4 separate regions of the Homo sapiens genome follow, and all the other regions are linked to region 3. The links come from fine-mapping of genetic effects on gene expression. A gene starts in region 3. Each other region holds a variant in brackets. All regions are shown on one strand. Distances are from middle to middle.

Region 1 (5,466 bases), 62 kb after region 3:
TCAAGTGATTTTCCTGCCTCAGCCTCCCAAGTAGTTGAGACTACAGGCATGCACCACCAGGCCCGGCTAATTTTTATATTTTTATAAAAGGTTTTTTACCTGAAGCAGGAGAAAGGAGACACAGGATAATCACTGCTTTTCAACTAAAATGGTTTTATTGAGATGTTTTGGTTGGAGGAGATACTTTTTCTGGCAACATTTCTGACTCAAGGTCCCTCTGGGCCCCAGCTCTTCCCATGAGACAGTCACAACACTGTTTAATCAGCTCTGCAGAGGCCAGCCCTGGAGCAGAGGAGGATTCAGGGCCATGGAGGGGACCTACTCTGCCCTGTTCTGGTCACTACTTCTCTAGACTCTCATGCACTATTGTCTGTAGCAAGTGACATTTCCACTGGAAGCACATAAAGATGGCGACAGCCTCATTTCTTCCTGAGTGAACTGAAGCCCAAAGAAAGGGGAGGTCCCACCAAAGGGGAAGAGAGCCAGGGCCCCACCCAACAAGGATGCTGAAATAAACTACATGTAATGCTTTCTAGGAGACAACACAGAAATCTCTACTCTGAAATCCAGAATGTTAAATATGGCTCCCCCTCTATAAGTTAACTGTACAAGCTTATCAATCATTTAAAACCCCAGCAACCAACAATAGCAATTAGGAATCCAAATTCATAGCACAAAAGAACACAGATACCAGTGTTGGACAGTGGTTTTGTTATGGGGACTGGGTGACAGCTTATCCTAAATCCTGCGCATCCGTCCATACCAGGAGCCGGGTTACCCTTGGTACCAGGTGCCTGCCCCACAAAGCCTGGGTCGGGAGAGGGCTTGGTGACGGGCCTGCAGCTCCCGTGAGTAACTGTCTTTTCCCAGGCTGTGCACGCATGGCCAGGTGGTCCTCAGGGTGGCTGGTTCTCCTTCCAGGAGCAACCATGGCAGGGGCTTAAAAGTTGAGTAGCTCTGGGAAATGGTCCTTGGAAGGCAGCGATGGGTCCATGAGCACAGTGGTCCCTCTTTGCCTTGGCTCCTTAAATGAAGAGGAAAGTTTGTAGAAGGAGGTTTGCCTTGATCAGTATTTTGTTCCTGAGAACCATAACCACTGGTTTGGGGACACCATTGAGCCTGCCTCCTGGCTGAGAACAGAAGCCGCACATCAATAACTGGGTTTCTTTTTTTTTTTTTGAGATGGAGTCTCACTCTGTCACCCAGGCTGGAGTGCGGTGGCGCGATCTCGGCTCACTGCAAGCTCCGCCTCTCAGGTTCACGCCATTCTCCTGCCTCAGCCTCCCAAGTAGCTGGGACTACGCCACCACGCCCAGCTAATTTTTTTTTTTTTTTTTTGTATTTTTAGTAGAGACAGGGTTTCACCATGTTAGCCAGGATGGTCTCGATCTCCTGACCTCGTGATCCGCCCACCTCGGCTTCCCAAAGTGCTGGGATTACAGGCGTGAGCCACCACGCCTGGCCCATTTTGTTTGTTTGTTTTTGTGTTTTTGAGACAGAGTCTTGCTCTGTCTCCCAGGCTGGAGTGCAGTGGCGTGATCTCGGCTCACTGCAAGCTCTGCCTCCCGGGTTCACGCCATTCTCTTGCCTCAGCCTCCCAAGTAGCTGGGACTACAGGCGCCTGCCACCATGCCCGGCTAATTTTTTGTATTTTTAGTAGAGACGGGGTTTCACTGTGTTAGCCAGGATGGTCTCGATCTCCTGACCTTGTGATCCGCCCGCCTCAGCCTCCCAAAGTGCTGGGATTACAGGCGTGAGCCACCGCGCCTGGCTTTTTTTTTTTTTTTTTTTTTTTTTTTTTTAAGACGTAGTTGCCCAGGCTGGAGTGCAATGGTGCGATCTTAGCTCACTGCAACCTCCTCCTTCCAGGTTCAAGTGATTCTCGTGCCTCAGCCTCCCGAGTAGCTGGGATTACAGGCACACGCCACCACACCTGGCTAATTTTTGTATTTTTAGTAGAGATGGGGTTTCCCCATGTTGCCCAGGATGGTCTCGAACTCCTGACCTCAGGTGATCAGCCTGCCTCAGCCTCCCAAAGTGCTGGGATTACAGGCGTGAGCCACTGCGCCTGGCCTCTTCTTTTTGTTTTTGTTTTGAGACAGCGTCTTGCTCTGTGGCCCAGGCTGGAGTGCAGTGGTGCAATCACAGCTCACACAGCAGCTCAACCTCCTAGACTCAAGCTATCCTCCCGCCTCAACCTCCGAGTAGCTGGGACTACACGTATGCGCCACTACACCTGGCAAATTTTTGTATATTATGTAGAGACAGCGTTTCACCATGTTGCCTACCCCTGTCTCCACTGCTGCCACCCCTTGCCCAGATGGCACCAGTGCCTGGGTCCTTCCTGGGCTTCCTGTACCCACTCTCCCAGTACCCATTTGTCTGCCCAACAGCCAGAAAAATTGAATTAGAAACATCCAGCCAGTCTTTGTACAAAACCTTCCCATTAGCCAGGCATGGTAGCTCATGCCTGTAATCCCAGCACTTGGGGAGGCTGAGGTGGGCCGATCACTTTAGGTCAGGAGTTTGAGACCAGCCTGGCCAACATGGTGAAACCCCATCTCTACTAAAAATACAAAAATTAGCCAGGTGTTGTGGCGTGTGCCTGTAATCCCAGCTACTCGGGAGGCTGAGGCAAGAGAAACCTGAACCCAGGAGGCAGAGGTTGCAGTGAGCCGAGATCACGCCACTGCACTCCAGCCTGGGTGACAGAGCGAGACTCCCTCTCAAAAAACAAAATAAAATAAAATAAATACAAATTGGCCGGGTGTGGTGGCAGACACCTGTAATCGCAGCTACTCGGGAGGCTGAGGCAGGAGCATCGCTTGAACCCAGGAGGCGGAGTTTGCAGTGAGCCAAGATTGCACCATTGCACTTCAGCCTGGGCGACAGGAACGAAAAAAAAAAAAAAAGAAAAAACAACCTTTCTATCTCCCTCCCTCCCTCCCATCTCATGCAGTAAAACCCCAAGTGCTGGCCCTGCCTGGTCAGCCTCCCCACCAACGGCCTCGACCTCCACTAGTTTCCCCTCACC[T/G]GCTCCTCCCTGGCCCCTGGCTTTGCTCAGACCTGTGGGGCTCACTCCACCCTGGGGCCTCTGTTGTCCCCTCTGCCTGGATGTCCTTCCCCCAGATGGGGTGAGGAAGGGAGCTCTGAAAGGCTTCCCTAGCCGCCTTCCTTAAATTGCAACACTGCGTCTTGCCCACAACCCCACACTACTTCCTGCCCCGCTTCCCTGTTTTGTTTCTCTCTGCCAGACTTACCACCAGTGAACATGCCATGTCTTCTTATCTGTTTTCTTGTTGTTGTTGTTGTTTTGACAGGGTCTCACTCTGTCATCCTGGCTGTACAGTGGTACAATCATAGCTCACTGTAGCCTTGAACTCCTGGGCTCAAGCGATCCTCCTGCCTCAGCCTCCCAAGTAGCTGGGACTACAGGTACACACCACTATGCCCAGCTAATTTTTAAATTTTTTTTTTGAGATGGGGTCTTGCTCTGTTGCCCAGGCTTGAGTGCAGTGGCACGACCACAGCTCACTGCAGCAACCATGGCTCATTGCAACCTTGACCTCCCAGGCTCAAGTGATCTTCCCACCTCAGCCTCCCAAGTCAGTGGGACTCTAGGGCATCCACCACCATGCCTGGCTAATTTTAAATGTTTTTATAGAGGCTGGACATGGTGGCGTGTGCCTGTAATCCCAGCTACTTGGAAGGCTGAGGCACGAGAATCGCTTGAACCCAGGAGGTGGAGGTTGCAGTGAGCCGAGATGGCGCCACTGCACTCCAGCCTGAGTGACAGTGATACTCTGTCTCAAAAAAAAAAAAAAAAAGTTTTTGTAGAGAGAGAGGTCTTGCTATGTTGCCCAGGCTGGCCTCAAACTCAGAGGCTCAAAGGATCCTCCCGCCTCAGCCTCCCGAAGTGCTGGGATTTATAGGCATGACCGCTGTGTCCAGCCCTATCTGTTTTCTCTCTCCTACCAGAATGCAAGTTCTAAGGGGTCAGGGGTTTGCTGTTCTTTATGTTGGTGTTCCCAGCACCTAGAGCAGGACTTGCCCGTAGCAGGGGCCCAGTGGATACTGGTTGAATGAATGACGTGGGGCTCTGCACATTTGGCTCAAACTCCTGCACCTGCCTCTGGGGCTGACTCTTGACCACCCAGGTTCACTGTGGTTTCCACCCTCCAGCCTGCTCGCTGAGATGACGGCCTGGGTCTCCCAGATGGGGACTTTGGGCAGCCTTCAAGGCCCTCTGGGGGTCCATCGTGCTTCCCAAGCAGTAGACCCAGCCTAGGCTTTGATGTCTGATGTCTGACCACTGGGGATTCCATCTCCTCCTCCCCTTACTTCAAGATGTGGCCTTGGGCAGGTGGCTTAACTGCTCTGTGGCTTTGGGTGCTAAGAGATGGTGCACGTGTGAGCGCTTAGCGCCGCACCATCTCACTGGCCTGCGGTGGCTCCTCAGCGCGTCTCAGCCACTGTTACATTTCCCAACGTCCCTGCCTCCTGTCTGTTTCCAGCATTGACCGAGTGCCTGCTGGGCTGAGGCTTTGTGTGCAATGTCTGTTTTTTTATTTATTTATTGAGACGGAGTCTCGCTCTGTCACCCAGGGTTGAGTGCATGTGATCTTAACTCACCGCAACCTCCGCCTTCAGGGTTCAAATGATTCTCCTGCCTCAGCCTCCCAACTAACTGGGACTACAGGCACCCACCACCATGCCTGGCTAATTTTTTGTGTTTTTAGTAGAGATGAAGTTTCACCATGTTGGCCAGGCTGGTCTCGAACTCGTGACCTCAGGTGATCTGCCTGCCTCGGCCTCCCAAAGTGCCGGGATTACAGGCGTGAGCCACCGTGCCCGGCCGTGTGTGCGATGTCTTCTCTGAGAGGTGGGCACCAAGTGAGGAACTAAGTTCTGGGAGGTTGTCACTTGGTCCAAGGTCGCAGCCAGGAGGATGCAGTGGAGTTGGGAGACCCACCCGGTGCCCACTTCTTTGCCCCTGAAGTCACCAGAATTCCCTGCCTGACGCCCCTGGCCAGAACAGAGGAACAGAGTCGCCAAGCTGCCCTCTTGGAGCACCCATGGGTGCACCCTGTAGCCCCCACCATGGCCCCTCCACCCACACTCTCGGCTGTTCCCTTGGATTGGGGGTCCTGCAGCTTGGCAAGACCTCCAATCCTTGGCCCACGGCAGCTGGAGAGCAGGGGCTGTACCTTTCTTCTTGGTCTGCCCTAGGCTTCTGTGGCTGCCACCTCCCCATTCACGTAATCCGGTTCCCCGTCCTCCTCGTCTGGGCTTCCCACCGGGCCAGGGGATGCTTCTCTCTGGAGTTGCCCTGTGGACCAGCGGGCAGACAGGTCATCGAGTGGTTCACATGGAGACACCCATGACTGCTCCCCCAGACTCAGACCCCCAGACTCCACAAAACAGCCCGCGGGAAATGCCACGCCCGACAGGTCCTGGCGGTGTGTG
Region 2 (5,408 bases), 54 kb after region 3:
GTAGGGAAGGCCAGTTCCTACTCCGGGGTGGAGGTGGGAATTGGCCCAAAAGACCTCCCAGTTCTAAAGTGAATTCCAAGTGGTTCTGGGCAACTGACCCCCCAAGTGATCTAAGACAGATGACTTGTGACTTTAAAGCTGTCCCCAAGTGAGCATCCTTCACAGGCCCTTGGTTGCTCTCTTGTTCATCTGTCTTATGTTTGGGAAATTTATCTTCCTGGTGCCGGAAGCACTTCTCTTTGATGGTGAGAGGAGCATTCCCCAAACTCATCCTGGTTGCTGGAGAATTTGATGAAAACAACAGGTTGAGAAGTTTTACCCATAGATTGCCTGGAAGTCGGTCTGTTGGGGCCTCCCCGCTCACATTGTCCCTTCTAGCCCCTGACCGCCTTTCCTTTCCCTTTGGCCAGGTCTGTGACGAGCCCCACCCACTGCTGGTAAAGGAGATGATCCAGCACTGTGTGAATGCCAACATTGACGAAGCCTACAAGGTTGGCCTCCTTCCCCCCGTCCTGGCAGAGGAACCGCTCACTTCTTGGGCAGAGGAGAGCGGGAGCCCTTCTGGTACCAGGGACATTATACACATCACTCCATTCATTCTTGAAATCTTACTTGGGAGACTGAGGCAGGAGGATTTGTTGAGCCTTGGAGGTCAAGGCTGCAGTGAGCTGTGATTGCGCCACTGTACCCCAGCCTGGGTGATGGTGAGACCCTGTCTCAGGAAAAAAAAAAAATTATTAATATCATGCTATGTGTTAATCTGTCTAGGAACTGGAAAAAAAAAATTATGCTAGGAGTTGGGTGCACTTTACTGATGAGAAAACTGATTCAGAGGCTGAATTCCTTGTCCTAAATCACTGTGTTTGTTTATTTATTTATTTATTTATTTATGTAGAAACAGGGTCTTACTCTGTTGCCCAGGCCGGAATGCACTGGCGCGGTCACAGCTCACTGTAGCCTCTACCTCTCAGGCTCAGGCGATCCTCCCACCTCAGCCTCCCAAGTAGCTGGGACTACAGGCACATGTCACTATGCCCAGCCCTAAGTCATGGTTTAAAAGCAGTAGAACTAGAATTCAAAATGGTGTTTTTCTCCTGTAATTATATCCTCTGCAGGAGAAATTTGTCAGCCAAAGTCAGGAGGAAAGACCAGCCTAGCTCCTTCTCCAGGGAAGCCATCTTCTCTCCAGTTAAGGGGAAGTGTCCCCATCCATTCTCATAGGCACAGGCATTCTGGGATCCAGCAGCCCCCAGCTAGCCAGGAGAGGAGGGAGCAGGAAGATTCTAGCCTCACAATGGGACTGAGTGCTGTGAGCAGATTCCAGCAGATGTGGCTGGGGTTCAGGCGACCTCAAGCCACATGGGTGTGGTGTGGTTGGTGTGGTTCAAGGTCATTGATCCAGTCATGGTTTCCCTCTGCCTACCCCCTAACAAACTAGGTTGGAAGTTGACTGGGTTTAGGGCATAGTTCCACCCAATGTGAAACCGGAGTGCAAGGCGGGGAGACTGAGCAGAGACCCAGGCCCAGGGTCCCTGAGTAGACCTGAAGAAAGCCTTCAGATTTGTGGGCACAGAGCTTCTCTGCCTCCTGAATTCACCCCAAGATGCCAAAACAAAGGCAAAAAGGCCTGCCTCCAGACGCTGCAGCCTGGGTGGGGCAGGGTGGGTGGGAAGCAGGAGGCTGGGATTACCCAGTCAGGGTGTGCTCCAGGCTCGTCCTGCAGAGGTTGCATTGGGACTGCAGCTGGATGAAGCTAGCAGATGAATGGTCTGCTTTTTCCACTTTGCTATACCTAGTCATCAGATTAATAAAGCATTTTAAGAGCTCCGGATCAAGAGATTACATGGGTGTGGTAGTAGACCATTTTGCAACACAGCTTAACACATTTGCGATAGGCTGGGCTCAGTGGCTCATGCCTGTAATCCCAGCACTTTTGGAGGTCGAGGCAGGAGGATTGCTTGAGGCCGGGAACTTGGGACCAGCCTGGGCAATATAGCAAGACTCTTATCTTTATATTACTGAAAAAAAAATATTTAAGCAAAACAACAATACATTTGCAATGTTATCTCTCTATCTGCCATGAAAATCAGTTAAGGTACCCCCATGTGACCTGAAGGGTGGGCCCCACCAGCTGTGGTGAGTCTCAAAATCACATGTCTTCTTACAGTTTAAAGTGGTAAGCAGCCTTTTCTGTCTCCTTTGTCTAGATTCTTGCTCACTTGTGGCATCTGGGCTACTCACCAGAAGATATCATTGGCAACATCTTTCGAGTGTGTAAAACTTTCCAAATGGCAGAATACCTGAAACTGGAGTTTATCAAGGTCGGTGAGAATGTAGAAATGCCTCTGTCCTCAAGA[A/G]TGTGGCCCATAGTGGCCGGGTGCTGTGGGCCACACCTGTAATCCCAGCACTTTGGGAGGCCGAGGTGGGCAGATCACCTGAGGTCAGGAGTTCGAGACCAGCCTGGCCAACGTAGTGAAAGCCTCTGTCTACTAAAAATACAAAAATTAGCTGGGCATGGCTGGGCGTGGTGGCTCATGCCTGTAATCCCAGCACTTTGGGAGGCCGAGGTGGGCGGATCACCTGAGGTCAGGAGTTTGAGACCAGCCTGGCCAACATGGCAAAGCCCCATCTCTACTAAAAATACAAAACTTAGCTGGGTGTGGTGGCAAGCGCCTATAATCCCAGCTACTTGGGAGGCTGAGGGAGGAGGATCGCTTGAACCTGGGAGGTGGAGGTTGCAGTGAGCCAAGATCGCACCACTGCACTCCAGCCTGGGCAGCAGAGCGAGACTGTCTCAAAACAAAAAAAAAAGACTGTGGGCCCTGGCTTCGCTTTCTCTGCTCACAGGCCTGGCATCTAGAAGGTGCTCAGTGTTTCCCAACTGCAGTGGGAGGGAGGCTGTGTCTTAGTTCCTTTGAGTTACTATAAAGGAATACCAGAGACTGGGTAATGTAGAAAGAAAAGAGGTTGATTTGGCTCACAGTTCTGCAGGCTGTACATGTAGCATGATGCCAGCATCTGCTTCTAGGGAGGGGTTCAGGCTGCTTCTGCTCATGTTGGAAGGGGAAGTGGGAGCCTGTGCATGCAGAGACCACCTGTTGAGAACGGAGGGAGGTGCCAGGCTCATTTGAACAGCCAGCTCTCCAGGGACCTAATTGATCCAGAACTCACTCACTACCTTGGGGTGGGCACCAAGCCATTCACGTGGGATCTTCCTCATGACCCAAACATCCCCACATTGGGGACCAAATTCCAAATGAGATTGGAAGGGGACAGACGTCCAAACTAGATCAACGTGGCTGATTGTCCTGAGGACCAAGTTTGTTTCACACAGTTCTGATTTTCTTCATTCAAGGCTCTCTTGTGTATTGACTGATTGATTGATTTTTCAAGGTTAGATTAATTGAGGTTTAATTTACATAGAGTAAAATTCAGCCTGTTAGGTACAGGACAAACGCACTCAGTCATGCAAACACTATCACCATCAGGATGCAGAATCTGTCATCCCAGAACAACTCATGTGTCCCTTTGAAGCCAGCCCCCTCCCCGACTACCACTTGGAAACTACCGATGTAGTTTCTGTTTCATGGGATACAGTTTTCCAGAATATCATATAAATGGGATCATGTAGAACTTAGCCTTGTGAGTTTGGCTTCTTTCTTTCACTGTAGCAGAAATGCCTTTCAGATGTGTCCACGCTGGTACTTCTATCCATGAGTCAGTCCGTGTTATCACTGAGAAGTAATCCATCCTGTGCGTGTACCACAGTTTGCTTATCTGTCCATCAGCTGGAGGACATTTGGGTTTACAGATTGTGGTGACTGTGAATAAAGCCAGTGTAAACATTTGCATATATGGATTAGTGTGAATGCAAATGTTAAGTTTTTCTTTTTCCCAAGTAAGTTCCCAGGGGTGAAATTGCCTGGGAAAATGATAAGTGTATGTTTTACTCGATAAGGAACTGCCAAACGGTTTTCCGAAGTGGCTGCAGCACGTGCATTCCCACCAGCATTCCGGAGGATCCTCAACCTAGCCACCACATGGAGTGCTCAGTTTGGTTTTTAAGCCATTCTAATAGGTGTGTAATGACCGGATGCAGTGGCTTACACCTGTAATCCCAGCTACTCGGGCGGCTGAGGGAGGAGGATCGCTTGAACCCAGGAGGTGGAGGTTGCAGTGAGCTGAGATCACACCCCTGCACTACAGCTTGGGCGACAAGAGTGAGACTCCATCTTAAAAAAAAAAAAAAAAAAAAAACCAATAACAACAACAACAAAATAACCTAATAGGCATGTGATGAGATCTCATTGTGCCTTTAATTTGCATTTCCCTAATTACTATGCTGAACATTTAATCATGTGCTCGTTTGCCATCCAGAATCTTCTTTGATGAAACATCTGTTCATATATACCCATTTTTTAAAATTTTTACATTTTTTATTTTAATTGTACTGTATTTTTTGTTTAGAGATCATGTTAAGACCGGCCAATTTTTATATTTTTGGTGGAGACGGGGTGTCCCCGTGTTGCCAAGGCTGGTCTTGAACTCCCGGGCTCAAGTGATCCTCCCGCCTCGGCCTCCCAAAGTGCTAGAATTACAGGTGTGAGCCACTGCGCCTGGCCTACCTTTTTTATGTTTTTGAGAGACAGGGTCTTGCTCTGTCACCCAGGCTGGAGTGCAGTGGTGCGATCATAGTTCACTGCAGCCTCAACCTTCCATGCTCAAGCAATCCTCCCACCTCAGGCTCCCGAGTAGCTGGGACTGCAGGCATGTGCCACTACACTTGGGTCATTTTTATTTTCTTTTTTTCGTAGAGTTTGGGTGTTGCTATGTTGCCCAGGCCCAACTCTGGGCAAGTGATCCTCCTGCCTCAGCCTCCCAGAATGCTGGGATTACAGGTGTGAGCTACTGCTCCAGGTCTAAATCTACCCATTTTTTAATTGGGTTGTTTGATTTTTATTACTGAATTTATTTACTTATTTATTTTTGAGATGGAGTCTTGCTCTGTTGCCCAGGCTGGAGTGCAGTGGCACTATCTCAGCTCACTGCAACCTTCGCCTCCCAGGTTTAAGTGATTCTCCTGCCTCAGCCTCCCGAGTAGCTGGGATTACAGGCGTGCGCCACCATACCTGGCTAATTTTTGTATTTTTAGTAGAGATGGGGTTTTACCATGTTGGTCAGGCTGATCTCGAACTCCTGGGCTCGTGATCCACCTGCCTTGACCTCCCAAAGTACTGGGATTACAGGCATGAGCCACCACGCCTGGACTTTATTACTGAATTTTTGAGAATTCTTTATACAGTCTGGATGCAAGTTCTTTATCAGATATATAAATATTTTCCTCTAGCCTGGCTTTCCGTGCCACCACCCCGCCCCCCCTCGCCCCACCCATTTTCTTAACAGTTTCT
Region 3 (5,479 bases):
ACTTTGGGAGCCTGAGGCAGGTGGATCACCTGAGGTCAGGAGTTCAAAACCAGCCTGGCCAACATGGTGAAACCCCGTCTCTACTAAAAATACTAAAATTAGCCGGACATGGTGGCACATGCCTGTAATCCCAACTACTTGGGAGGCTGAGGCAGAATTGCTTGAACCCAGGAGGCAGAGGTTACAGTGAGCCAAGATCGCGCCATTGCACTCAAGTCTGGGCAACAAGAGTGAAACTCCATTTCAAAAAAAAAAAAAAAAAAGAGGGCAGGATCAACTGTCAGGGTGGCAGGGCCAGGAGGGGAGGCCAAGAGGGAACTGGGGGACCACACGTGGGCAGGCCTGCCAGGTGGGGAGCAGGGACAACTGGGGCTGTGGGGAGATGGCCTTTCTATCACCAAGGGAGGCAGGACCAGGGAGGAGGCTGCAGTGAGGCAGAGAACAGCAGGTGCCGGGTCAGGGCTAACCAGCAAGGGTGCTGAAGAAGGACAAACAGCCTGGAAGGGGCACGAGCCTCCTCTCCCTGAAACGTGTGTGAGTGGGGCCAGGAAGCCACTCTGTACGGCAGCAACAACACTTATAGGACATCTACTCTGTCACAGGGCACACAGTTCTCCTAACAACCCTAAAAGCCAGATACCATAAGGATCCCAATTTTACAGATGAGGATGTCGAGGCAGAGAGAGATGCAATGTGCAAGGTCACATAGCTAGGGAGTGGCAGAGCTGGGATTTGAACCCGGGCTGTTAAGCTCCAGCATCTGAACTCTTCACCGCCAAGGTAGACAGCAGATGCCGGAAAGCGATTACTGCTCCTTGGAGTAAATTCCCCCTGCTGGGACTTTGGGCTCTGAGTGCAGAATTCCAGGCACCACCTTCCCAGCCTGCACGGTGCTGAGGGCTGGAGTTTGCAGGTGCACACAGGTGTGTGTGGAGGAGGCTCCTCCCAGGCGCCTCCACCTGCCTCTTCTGCCTTTGGAGCCCCTCTCCATCTCCACCGCCTCCACCTGTCCTGAAGCCAGAATCCCATCATTCCCCCGCAAGGCACTGCAGACAAGAATGCATCCTGTGCTCAACGCAGGTCTAAGTTCCTTAAATCCTAAGCTGTTTCTCTAACCCAATAGCCTCCTTTTCTGACTCCAAGCCCTTATTCACGCTATTTCTCCTGCACGAAACCCCCTTCAGGCAACCTGGCAGCAAACTTCTGCAAGATGCTCTATGAAGCTTCCTGGTCTGCCCCATCCTCCAGGGGACCCCCTCTATGCCCCCAGCTTCCCCACTAATGCACTCATCAACCCCCGGGGCTGCACTTTTTGGGGACACCGAGGCTGCTGTCCTGTGGACCAGCCAGCCCCTAGAAGTGCCAGGCCAGGTAACAGCAGCTGAATGAAGGGCTTATTGTTTACATTTACAACCGAAAGGGAAGAGGCTTCTGAAGCACACACGTGGTGCTCCCCGCACCCTCCTCCTCCTCTGCCCACAGCCCTAGGCCACCCCACCCACCTCCCTCAGGCATCGCGCAAGAGTGACGGCAGACCCCCTCATCCCAGACCCCCACTTCTCACCCAGAAGTGAGAGGAGGGGTCTCAGACGTTGGGGGACACACTGCTGGGTGGGTGATTTCCCCCCAAGGTGCTCCCTCTGCCCGTCCTTCCCAGGGTGGGGCTGGGGCCTGCGTGGCAGTGCCCAGTGGGCACCCGCTCGGCCCAAGCTCTGCCTGAAAGGTCCAAACGGGCGGGCCCTGAAGGTTCAGCCAAGCATCCTCCGCGGCCGCCGCCCCTCCCCGGGAGGAGGGCAGAAAATCTGCTGCCTCACCAGCCACCAGCGCCAGCTTGGGGGGACACCCCCTGAGAGAAGCCGCCCGCCTCAATCTCCTCCTACCCCACCTCAGCCAAGCACTTCAACCAAGTTTTGCAAAGGCCATCGGCCAGGCGACCCCAGAGGGTGTAGCAGGGAGGAGAGGGGGGCAGTCCCTGTTCTCCCAGACCCCAGGTTTGGAGATGGGGGCTGCATGGCCGCGCCCACCAGGCTGTGCTCCCCAGGCTCTGTGAGCCCAGAGAGCCCTGCGGCGCGTCCAGCCGTCTTGCTCTGCCCTTGGAAGGGGGTACGGGCGACCCTCCAACAGAAGGGCCAAACCCCCGTCCGAGGGTAGGGACCCCGATGAGGCTGGTGATGCCTTCAACAGGGGGACCCGCAGCCCGGGAATAGCCCCCAACCCTGGCACCCCAAGCAGTGCCCCCTCCTCTCCTACAAGCAACGGGGAAGTTGGGGCACACCCCAGCCAGCTCCCGCCCACGCCCACCGGCCGGCCTCGAACCCTCCCGCCCCCGCCCACGCCCCGACAATGCCTCCGGGCCCGCAGCCCCGCTTTCGGCCAGGCCGCCGCCCCCCGCATCTCTCCGTCCTTTGTTGCCCGCGCGACCCCCTCCCTCGGCCCCTCCAGCAGCCCCTACCTTCGTCCTTCCAGCATCAGGCTAAGCGGCGGGAGGCCCGGAGAGCCCCGGCCTCCTCCTCTCGGGCCCGGGCGCGCTGGGGGGCGAGGATGCTGCGGCCCCTCCCTGCGCGGCGCTGCCCACCGGCTGCACCCCCTCCTGGCGCCGGGGATCCCCGCGATAGGTGCTCAGGGCCCGGGCCTCGCGCCACGTCTCTGGGAAGGCGGGAGGCGCGCACCGAGGCCGCCCAGCAGCCGCCTGCGCGCCCCGCGGCCGAGCCGAGCTGAGCGCCCGCGGAGCCAGCGGAGCCAGCGGAGCCAGCGGCCCGGCTCCGGGAGGGAACAAAAGGGGCCGGCGCAGGGGCGGGCGCGGGAGGGCGGGGCCTGGGGCGGGCGGGAGGGGGGGGCGGGTCAGGCGCGCGTGGGCGGCCTCGCGGTTTTCAGGCCTCAGTGCCTCGCGGAAAGCAGGCGGGCGGGCGGAAAACGCGGAGCAACCTCTTCCCCCTCTCCCCGCTCCATCTCCTTCCCTTCCCAGGCCGCAGCTGTCCTTTGTGGGGCGTCCAGGGTTCGCCCACATCCACCTCCGCGCTGGGCACCTGGTGGTGCTTACATCGCGTTTGGTGAAACGCATCCTCCAGCCATGCTATGCTTGCAAAGATGTCTCTGGTCATTGGGAAGGACGGCAGCTTGGGAAGGTGAGATGCTGTTGGCGCTGGACAGAAAGGATGAGGAGGGGGACAGTGCAGCTGGGGCGAAAACTTCAGGTCTGTGTTGGGGCCAGCGTGGGTGGGGAACTGTGGCACAGGGTCTCATGGTTATCAAGGATCTCATAGCCTGGGCAGTGTCTCACGCCTGTAATCCCAGCACTTCAGGAAGCCAAGGCGTGCAGATCGCCTGAGGCCAAGAGTCCGAGAACAACCTGGGCAACGTAACCTTCGTCTCTACAAAAAATACAAAAATTAGCTGGGCGCGCGCCTGCGGTCCCAGCTACTGGGGAGGCTGGGGTGGGAGGATCGCTGGAGCCCAGGAGGTCGAGGCTGCAGTGAGTCATGATCAAGCCACGGCCCTTCAGCCTGGGTGACAGAGCGAGACTCCGTCCCAAAAGAAAAAAAAAAAAGGATCTCATGGTGATCAGCTTCCAAGATACAAATGAACCCTCCCCAGGACAGGATGCATGTACTGCTATTTCAGAGGAGTTGAGGCAGCTGCCAGGTCCCCTCCTGCGTGGAGAGGCAGATGCCAAGTGACAGCTCAGGAACTAAACAGTGACCAAGCCCCAGCCCCTGTCCATGCCCAGGCTGCGGTTGGCTTCTGTGGCTTGGTTTCCCTCTGTCCCCCCTTGATAAGCTCGCCTGGATGCCTTTGACCTAGCTGGCCGTTCTACCAGTCCTGCCCTGCCCCCTTTCTCTGTTTGACAAATCATATTCCCCCTTCAAAGCACAGCTTAAATGTCCCTGCTTTTCCCTTGAGTGCAGGAATGTGGGTGTTGGGGGAGGTTGTGGTCTGTATGGTGAGACCACTGTTCTGCGGGAGAGAAGTGCCACATACGATCTTGTTCCTATCCCCTAAGGGACCCAGTGCAATGCTTGGCAGAGGGTAGACATCCAGTAATATTTGTTGAATGAATGAATGAACTTACTAAGTTAACATTACCACCCCTCAACTGTCTTGGTATCCATAATCTTTGAGAAGTGAGTGAACCTTTTTTTAGAGAAGGGGTCTCACTCTGTCACCCAGGCTGGAGTGCAGTGGTGTGATTACAGCTCACTGCAGCCTCAAACTCCCAGGCTCAAATGATCCTCCTGCCTCAGCCTCCAGAGTAGCTGGGACTACGGGCATGCACCATGCCCGGCTAATTTTTTGTGTTTTTTATAGAGATGGGGTCTCATTATGTTGGGGTCCAGGCTGGTCTTAAACTCTTGGCTTCAGATGATCTTCCCACCTCAGCCTCCCAAAGTGCTGGGATTACAGCTGTGAGCCACCGTGCCTGGCCTAAACATTTTGACCTCAGTTTCCCCATCTGTAAATTGGGGAGAGTGTTTCAATTCAGTTCAGCGAACATGCAATGCTGTAATGATGGAGGCTGGGCATGGGGTCAGCCCTGAGGGGGTGCCCAGTTGGTGTGGAGAGCCAGACTTGGAGACTAATAAGGGAGGAGGTTCAGAGTGAACTCCAGAAAGACTGGGCTTCTGTAGGAGGTGTGAACCCATAGGGAGGGAGGGGACTCAGGGTGGAGAGGGCAGTGTTCAGGAAACAGGGAGCTAATTGTTCCTTGTGGCTGGGATGCATAACCTGTATATCAACAGTTATAAACCAGCCAGGCACAGTGGCTCACACCTGTAATCCCAGCACTTTAGGAGGTGGTGGCGGGCAGATAACCTGAGGTCAGGAGTGCGAGACCAGCCTGGCCAACGTGATGAAACCCCATCTCTACAGAAGATGCAAAAAATAGCTGGGTGTGGTGGTACATGCCTGTAATCCCAGCTACTCGGGAGGGTGAAGCTTGAGAATGGCTTGAACCCAGAAGGCGAAGGTTGCAGTGAGTGGAGATCATACCACTACACTCCAGCCTGGGCAACAGAAGGGATGGGATGGGATGGGACGGGACGGGACGGGATGGGGCAGGGATTTGCCAAGGTGACATGGGTCTTGCTGGGATGTACCTGAGCTCACCAGCCCCTGCCCAGCAGATCTAGCCTCCCACATGTGCCTCAGGAGGTAGGCAGGGGCCCCCAACCTTCACAGGTACTGCCTCCCTCACTGATGGCCCCCAGTATTATTCAGAGCAACAGCCTGCGGTCAACAGACCTTACCTGGCCGCTGGTGAGTGGAGCTTCAAAGAGCAAGTCACCTGAGAGGGACACCTTTTGTTCTTGCTCCAGATGAGAGAAGACAGGCTTCTGTCTTGTTACAGTTTGCATTTGGGGGGCCGGGCACAGTGGCTCACACCTGTAATCCCAGCACTTTGGGAGGCCAAGGCGGGCGGATCACAAGGTCAGGAGTTCGAGACCAGCCTGGCCAACATGGTGAAACTCCGTCTCTACTTAAA
Region 4 (5,396 bases), 29 kb before region 3:
GCAATAGGAAATGCTCAGCTCTGTTAGAATCCTGTGGGACCACGATAAACATGGTCCATCCTTCACGGAATCCTGGTTAGGCTGTGCAGTGATGAGGTTAAGTGGTAAGGGGGAAGGGAGAAGGTTAAAGGATAATGGACGTTTTTTTCTTTTATCACTTTCAAATTTTCCTGTAATGAGATGATGGATGGGTGAAAGGGAAAGAAATTAATCTTTAATGAGTTTTCTACCTGCAGGCACTCCATGTTCATTAACTCGCTTGATCCCATTAGGGAGATGCTATTATCCCATTTGTGGCTCAGAGAGGTTAGGTCACTCTCCCAGGGTCACACAGCAGGAGCAGGGCTAGGAGGGGCATGAGAGCTGGATCACAGCCAGAATTTGGGCCTCTCTAGATCGGGGAGGAACAAAGGGGAAAGTACCCAGAAGGTTCAATAAGACTCTCTCGCTGCACGCCATGCCCCAGCCCCAGGGTTGGGCTGGGCGGGTGCCCTTCTCTAGCCATTAGGTTACACAGCCTCACTCCTCACTGGACCAAGCTCAGCCCACTGGGTGCCTTGACTCACGACCTTCCCCCACTGTCTGCAGATCCTTCCTCCTCCTCCTCTTCTCATTTTCAAACTCCACCCACTGCCCTGCCCCCATTATCAAGGCTGAGCTCATTCACGCTTCTTCCAGGAAGTCTTCCCTGATTGCCCACGCATGGTAATGAGCCCTTCCCTCCCCCGGATAACCACAGCCTCCTCACTGGTATCCCCACCTGGCTCTTAACCCTACAATCCGTTCTCTGCACAGTGGCCCAAGGGATGTGAACAAGGTCCCATCACTCTTCCATTGGTATCCTCCAGCCGCTCCCACCATCCTTTTTTTGTTTTGTTTTTGAGTCAGGGTCTCGCTGGGTCACCCAGGTTGGAGTGCAGTGGTGTGATCAAAACTCACCGCAGCCTCGACCTCCTGGGCTCAAGCGGATCTCCTACTTCAGGCTGCCAAGTAACTGGAACCACAGGTATACACCACCGTGCCTAATTTTTTTTTTAAGTAGAGATGAGAGGTCTTGCTGTGTTGCTCAGGCTGGACTCAAACTCTACTGCTCAAGCGATCCTCCTGCCTCAGCCTCCCAAAGTGCTGGGATTACAGGCTTGAGTCACTGTGCCCGGCCCCCACTGCTCTTTTTCCTTTTTCTTTCTTTTTTTTTTTTTTTTTTTTTGAGATGGAATCTCACTCTATTGCCCAGGCTGGAGTGCAGTGGCGCAATCTCAGTTCACTGCAAACTCCGCCTCCCGGGTTCAAGCAATTCTCCTGCCTCAGCCTCTCGAGTAGCTGGGATTACAGCTAATTTTTGTATTTTTAGTAGAGACAGGGTTTCATCATGTTGGCCAGGCTGGTCTCCTAACCTCAAGTGATCCTCCCGCCTCAGCCTCCCAAAGAGCTGGGATTACAAACTTGAGTCACTGTGCCCAGCCCCCACCACTCTTAAAACAAACCCAAACCCTGTGTCCTTCAGATCTGTCCTGGCTGCCCTCCCTAACCTCTTTTCACACTCCTCTCCATCCAGACTTTTCTTCTTTCTCTCTCTCTTTTTTTTTTAGGGTCTCACTCTGTCACTCAGGCTGGAGTGCAGCGGTGTGATCATGGCTCACTGCAGCCTCCAACCCCTGGGCTCAAGCAATCCTCCTGCCTCACCCTCCTGAGTACTTGGGACTACAGGCACACACTACCATGCCTGGCTAATTAAAAAAATTTTTTTTGTAGAGCTGGGGTCTCACTATGTTCCCCAGGCTGGTCTGGAACTCCTAGGCTCAAGTGATCCTCTGGCCTCAGCCTCCCAAAGTGCTGGATTACAGGCGTGAGCCACCATGCTGGCTTCTCTTTCTTTCTTTATTTTATTTTATTTTTTGACAGAGTCTTGTTCTGTTGCCCAGGCTGGAGTACAGTGGCATGAGCTCGGCTCACTGTAGCCTCCGCCTCCTAAGTCCAACCGATTCTCATGCCTCGGCCTCCCATGTAGCTAGGATTACAGGTGCCACCACATCCCGCTAATTTTTGTATTTTTAGTAGAGACGGGGTTTCACCATGTTGGCCAGGCTGGTCTCGAACTCCTGACCTAGGTGATCCTCCAGTGTTGGCCTCCCATAGTGCTGGGATTACAGGCATGAGCCACCGTCCCCGGCCTTTTTCTTTCTTAACAAATCAAATTCATTCCAGCCTCAGGGCCTTTGCATCACCCATTCCCTCCACGTGGAACACCTCTTCCCCACCCCACCTCATCCCCCGAATTTTCTCTTGTCTGGCTTCTCACTGCTGGAGAGGATTTGCCACCCTAGAGCAGAGCCTGGGCCTTCACAAGGCTGCACTGGGCAGGCCTTTCCCATGGGCTTCTGCCGACGGGCCTCACCCTGCAGCTTCCTCGCCCTTTCACGCTGCCCATTTGGCTCTGCCAGGGACCCTGTCCTGCCAACTGCCCATGATTTTGGCTCAAACTTTCCTTGACCCCCTTCCCCAGGACCCAGGTTGTCCAGTCTGGCCCCAGCTGTGTTTGTCTCTCCAAACTTTGTACCAATCAGATAAGATGGGCAGTGACCTATCCTGCTGGCTGGAGTATCATCAAAGCCAGGCTTTGTGCACAAAGATGTTCATCACAGCATCATTTATCAAAGTGATAAGTAACAAACGATCGTCATTTTTTTTTTAAATGGAGTTTCACTCTTGTAGCCCAGGCTGGAGTGCAGTGGTGTGATCTCGGCTCACTGCAACCTCCTCCTCTTGAGTTCAAACGATTTTCCTGCCTTAGCCTCCCAAGTAGC[T/C]GGGACTATAGGCGCCCGCCACCATGCCCGACTAATTTTTGTATTTTTAGCAGAGACAGGGTTTTCCCATGTTGCCCAGGCTGGTCTTGAACTCCTGACCTCAAGTGATCCTTCCACCTCGGCCTCCCAAAGTGCTGAGATTACAGGCATGAGCCTCCATGCCCAGCTCAATTACAGTTTTTTAAACTGCAGAGAATAGGTAAGAAATTGCTGCTAGTTCCTTCCATCATACTCATCTTGGTTTAAACCCTCCCGTAGCTCTCATTATTAGGATGAAAATGAAACTCCCCGCACACCTCCAAGTCACCCAGGTCCACCTGCATTGCAGCAGACTGCCCCAGCCACCCCCACGCTCTCTCCCTCTTCTGTACGCATGACGCTCCTTTCTGCCTCTGAGCATTTGCATGTGCTGTTCCCTCTACTTGGAATACTCTTCCCTCTTTTTTTTTTTATTTTTGAGACAGAGTCTCACTCTGTTGCCCAGGCGATTCTCCTCTCTCAGCCTCTCGAGTAGCTGGGATTACAGGCACCTGCCACCACGCCTGGCTAATTTTTGTATTTTTAGTAGAGATGGGGTTTCACCAAGTTGGCCAGGCTGGTTTCGGTCTCGAACTCTTGACCTCCAGTGATCCAGCCGCCTCAGCCTCCCAAAGTGCTGGGATTACAGGCGTGAGCCACCGTACCTGAACCTTTTCCTCTTCAGCTAGTGAATCACCTATTCACCCTCCAGACCTCAGCGCCCATGTCCCCTCCCTGGGGAAACCTCTGCCAACCTCCCAGTGTTGATCAGGCCCCATTACAGGAGCTCATGACACTCAGCGTCCCCCATCAGATTGGTCACAGAGTGGCCTGTGCTCCTGGGGCTCTTCCAGAAGAACACTCATCCCATGTAGCCAGTCCCCTCACCCCCCATCCTTGGTGTGCCACGTACCTTCCTTGGAGCTAGCGGCCACCGCCGCCGAGGATGAAGCTGACCCAGTAGATGTCCGGCCCATGGGGCTGGAGTGCTTCCCCCCACGGCCGGGGGGCTTCAGGCCGCTGGGCTTCTGCATGGCGGTGCCACTGGGCAGGTGGACAAGGGTGAGTGCTGGTCACGTCCTCTCTGCCATCTTCACTCACCTGCGGGCAGAGACAGGAGAGATCACATCATCACTTCCCAATGGCCCCCAGACCCTCAAGGGCCATCAAGCAACACACATCCCTCCTGAGGTGGGCTGGACGAGGCAACACCCGATTTAACCTATCAGCTCACTGCTCCCGTTGCCGCACAGGCCAGATTCCCGCTCTCAGACTCACCATCCCAGCACGCACCCCCTCTACTGCATGGGCAGGACAAACACACAGAGAGGCTATTGCCTTACCCTCTTATATCCTGGTGTGCAGTTACCTGCCTCAACTCCACACCAGGCCGTCATCTAGCCATGACCTCTGCCTGCCTTCCCACCATTAAAGCTTTGTGTCTTTATTTATTTGGTTGCAGAAATTTATTACAATTGAAAGATGTTTCATCTTCTATCCCAAGAGCATCCATCAAACTGTTTGCAACAAAGACCACTTTTAGACTGGGTACAGTGGCCTGTCATCCCAGCACTCTGGGAGGCTGAGGCTGGTGGATCGCTTGAGCCCAGGAGTTTGAGGCTGCAGTGAGCTCCAGGGCACTCCAGCCTGGGTGACAGAGTAAAACCTTTTCAAAGCGTGAGCTGCATGCTGACTATGGTCATTAAAAGCCCTAAAAGGGGCCAGGTGCAGTGGCTGATGCCTGTAATCCCAGCACTTTGGGAGGCTGAGGCGAGTGGATCACTTGAGGTCAGGAGTTCAAGACCAGGCTGGCCAACATGGTGAAACCCTGTGTCTACTAAAAATACAAAAATTAGCCAGGCTTAGTAGCACATGCCTGTAGTCCCAGCTACTCGGGAGGTTGAGGCACAAGAATCACTTGAACCCAGGAGGCGGTGGTTGCAGTAAGCCGAGGTCACGCTGCTGCACTCCAGCCTGGACAACAGAGTGAGACTCTTGTCTCAAAAGAAAAAAAAAAAAAGCCCTAAAAGGGCTGGGGGCAGTGGCTCACACCTGTAATCCTAACACTTTGGGAGGCCAAGGTGGGAGGATTGCTTGAGGCCAGGAGTTCAAAACCAGCCTTGGTAGCGTAGCAAGACTTTGTCGCTACAGAAAATAAAAAATAAAAAATTAGCCAGGCGTGGTGGCGCATGCCTGTAGTCCCAGCTACTTGTGGGGCAAAGGTGGGAGGATTTTTTGAGCCTGAGAGGCCAAGGCTGCAGTGAGCTATGACGGCACCACTGCACTCCAGCCTGGGTGACAGAGCAAGACTCTGTCTCAAAACAAAAACAAAAACAAAAACAAAAAAATGCAGTCGTAAAATAGAACAAGATGATGTCCTTTGCAGGGACATGGATGGAGTTGGAAGCCATTATCCTCAGCAAACTAACACAGGAAAAGAAAACCAAACACCACATGTTCTCACTTGTAAGTCGGAGCTGGACAATGAGAACACATGGACACAGGGAGGGGAACAACACAATGGGGCCTGTTGTGGGGGCGGGGGGAGGGAGAGCATCAGGAAAAATAGCTGAT

Alleles and levels. Positions count from the first base shown, and alleles are read on the strand shown. Sizes are in standard deviations (SD) of each study's normalised expression. Not every link is listed here.
For the expression in aorta of the gene that starts at base 2,780 in region 3, C is the low allele of the variant in region 4 and T is the other (moderate effect, 0.56 SD a copy in GTEx).

What was found. PIP is the estimated chance that this variant, and not a neighbour inherited with it, causes the effect. A credible set is the group of variants that fine-mapping cannot tell apart.
Region 1: its variant is the best candidate, but not a certain one, in a credible set for the expression of CLIP2 in T cells (TOPMed, PIP 0.54).
Region 2: its variant is the best candidate, but not a certain one, in a credible set for the expression of CLIP2 in whole blood (INTERVAL, PIP 0.89).
Region 4: its variant is the best candidate, but not a certain one, in a credible set for the expression of CLIP2 in aorta (GTEx, PIP 0.78).

The regions. Positions count from the first base shown.
Region 1 is chr7:74,224,502-74,229,967 of GRCh38, reverse strand. It overlaps LAT2 (linker for activation of T cells family member 2), which reads right to left. Exons shown (of 14, transcript NM_032464.3): 13 at 5,208-5,329; 14 at 134-1,024. The coding sequence ends at 5,226. Among named protein-coding and RNA genes, the nearest start is that of LAT2, 17 kb to the right of the region's middle. RefSeq lists an enhancer at 324-603. The variant T/G (reference allele first, on the strand shown) is at 3,035.
Region 2 is chr7:74,232,445-74,237,852 of GRCh38, reverse strand. RFC2 (replication factor C subunit 2) reads left to right here. Exons shown (of 11, transcript NM_181471.3): 9 at 411-491; 10 at 2,208-2,321. Among named protein-coding and RNA genes, the nearest start is that of RFC2, 19 kb to the left of the region's middle. The variant A/G (reference allele first, on the strand shown) is at 2,358.
Region 3 is chr7:74,286,708-74,292,186 of GRCh38, reverse strand. It overlaps CLIP2 (CAP-Gly domain containing linker protein 2), which reads right to left and starts at 2,780. Exons shown (of 17, transcript NM_003388.5): 1 at 2,453-2,780. LOC107986742 (a long non-coding RNA gene) reads left to right here and starts at 2,880. Exons shown (of 2, transcript XR_001745024.2): 1 at 2,880-3,125. RefSeq lists enhancers at 1,138-1,781, 1,782-2,426 and silencers at 2,302-2,371, 2,392-2,861.
Region 4 is chr7:74,316,007-74,321,402 of GRCh38, reverse strand. It overlaps CLIP2 (CAP-Gly domain containing linker protein 2), which reads right to left. Exons shown (of 17, transcript NM_003388.5): 2 at 3,736-3,923. The coding sequence starts at 3,856. Among named protein-coding and RNA genes, the nearest start is that of CLIP2, 29 kb to the right of the region's middle. The variant T/C (reference allele first, on the strand shown) is at 2,805.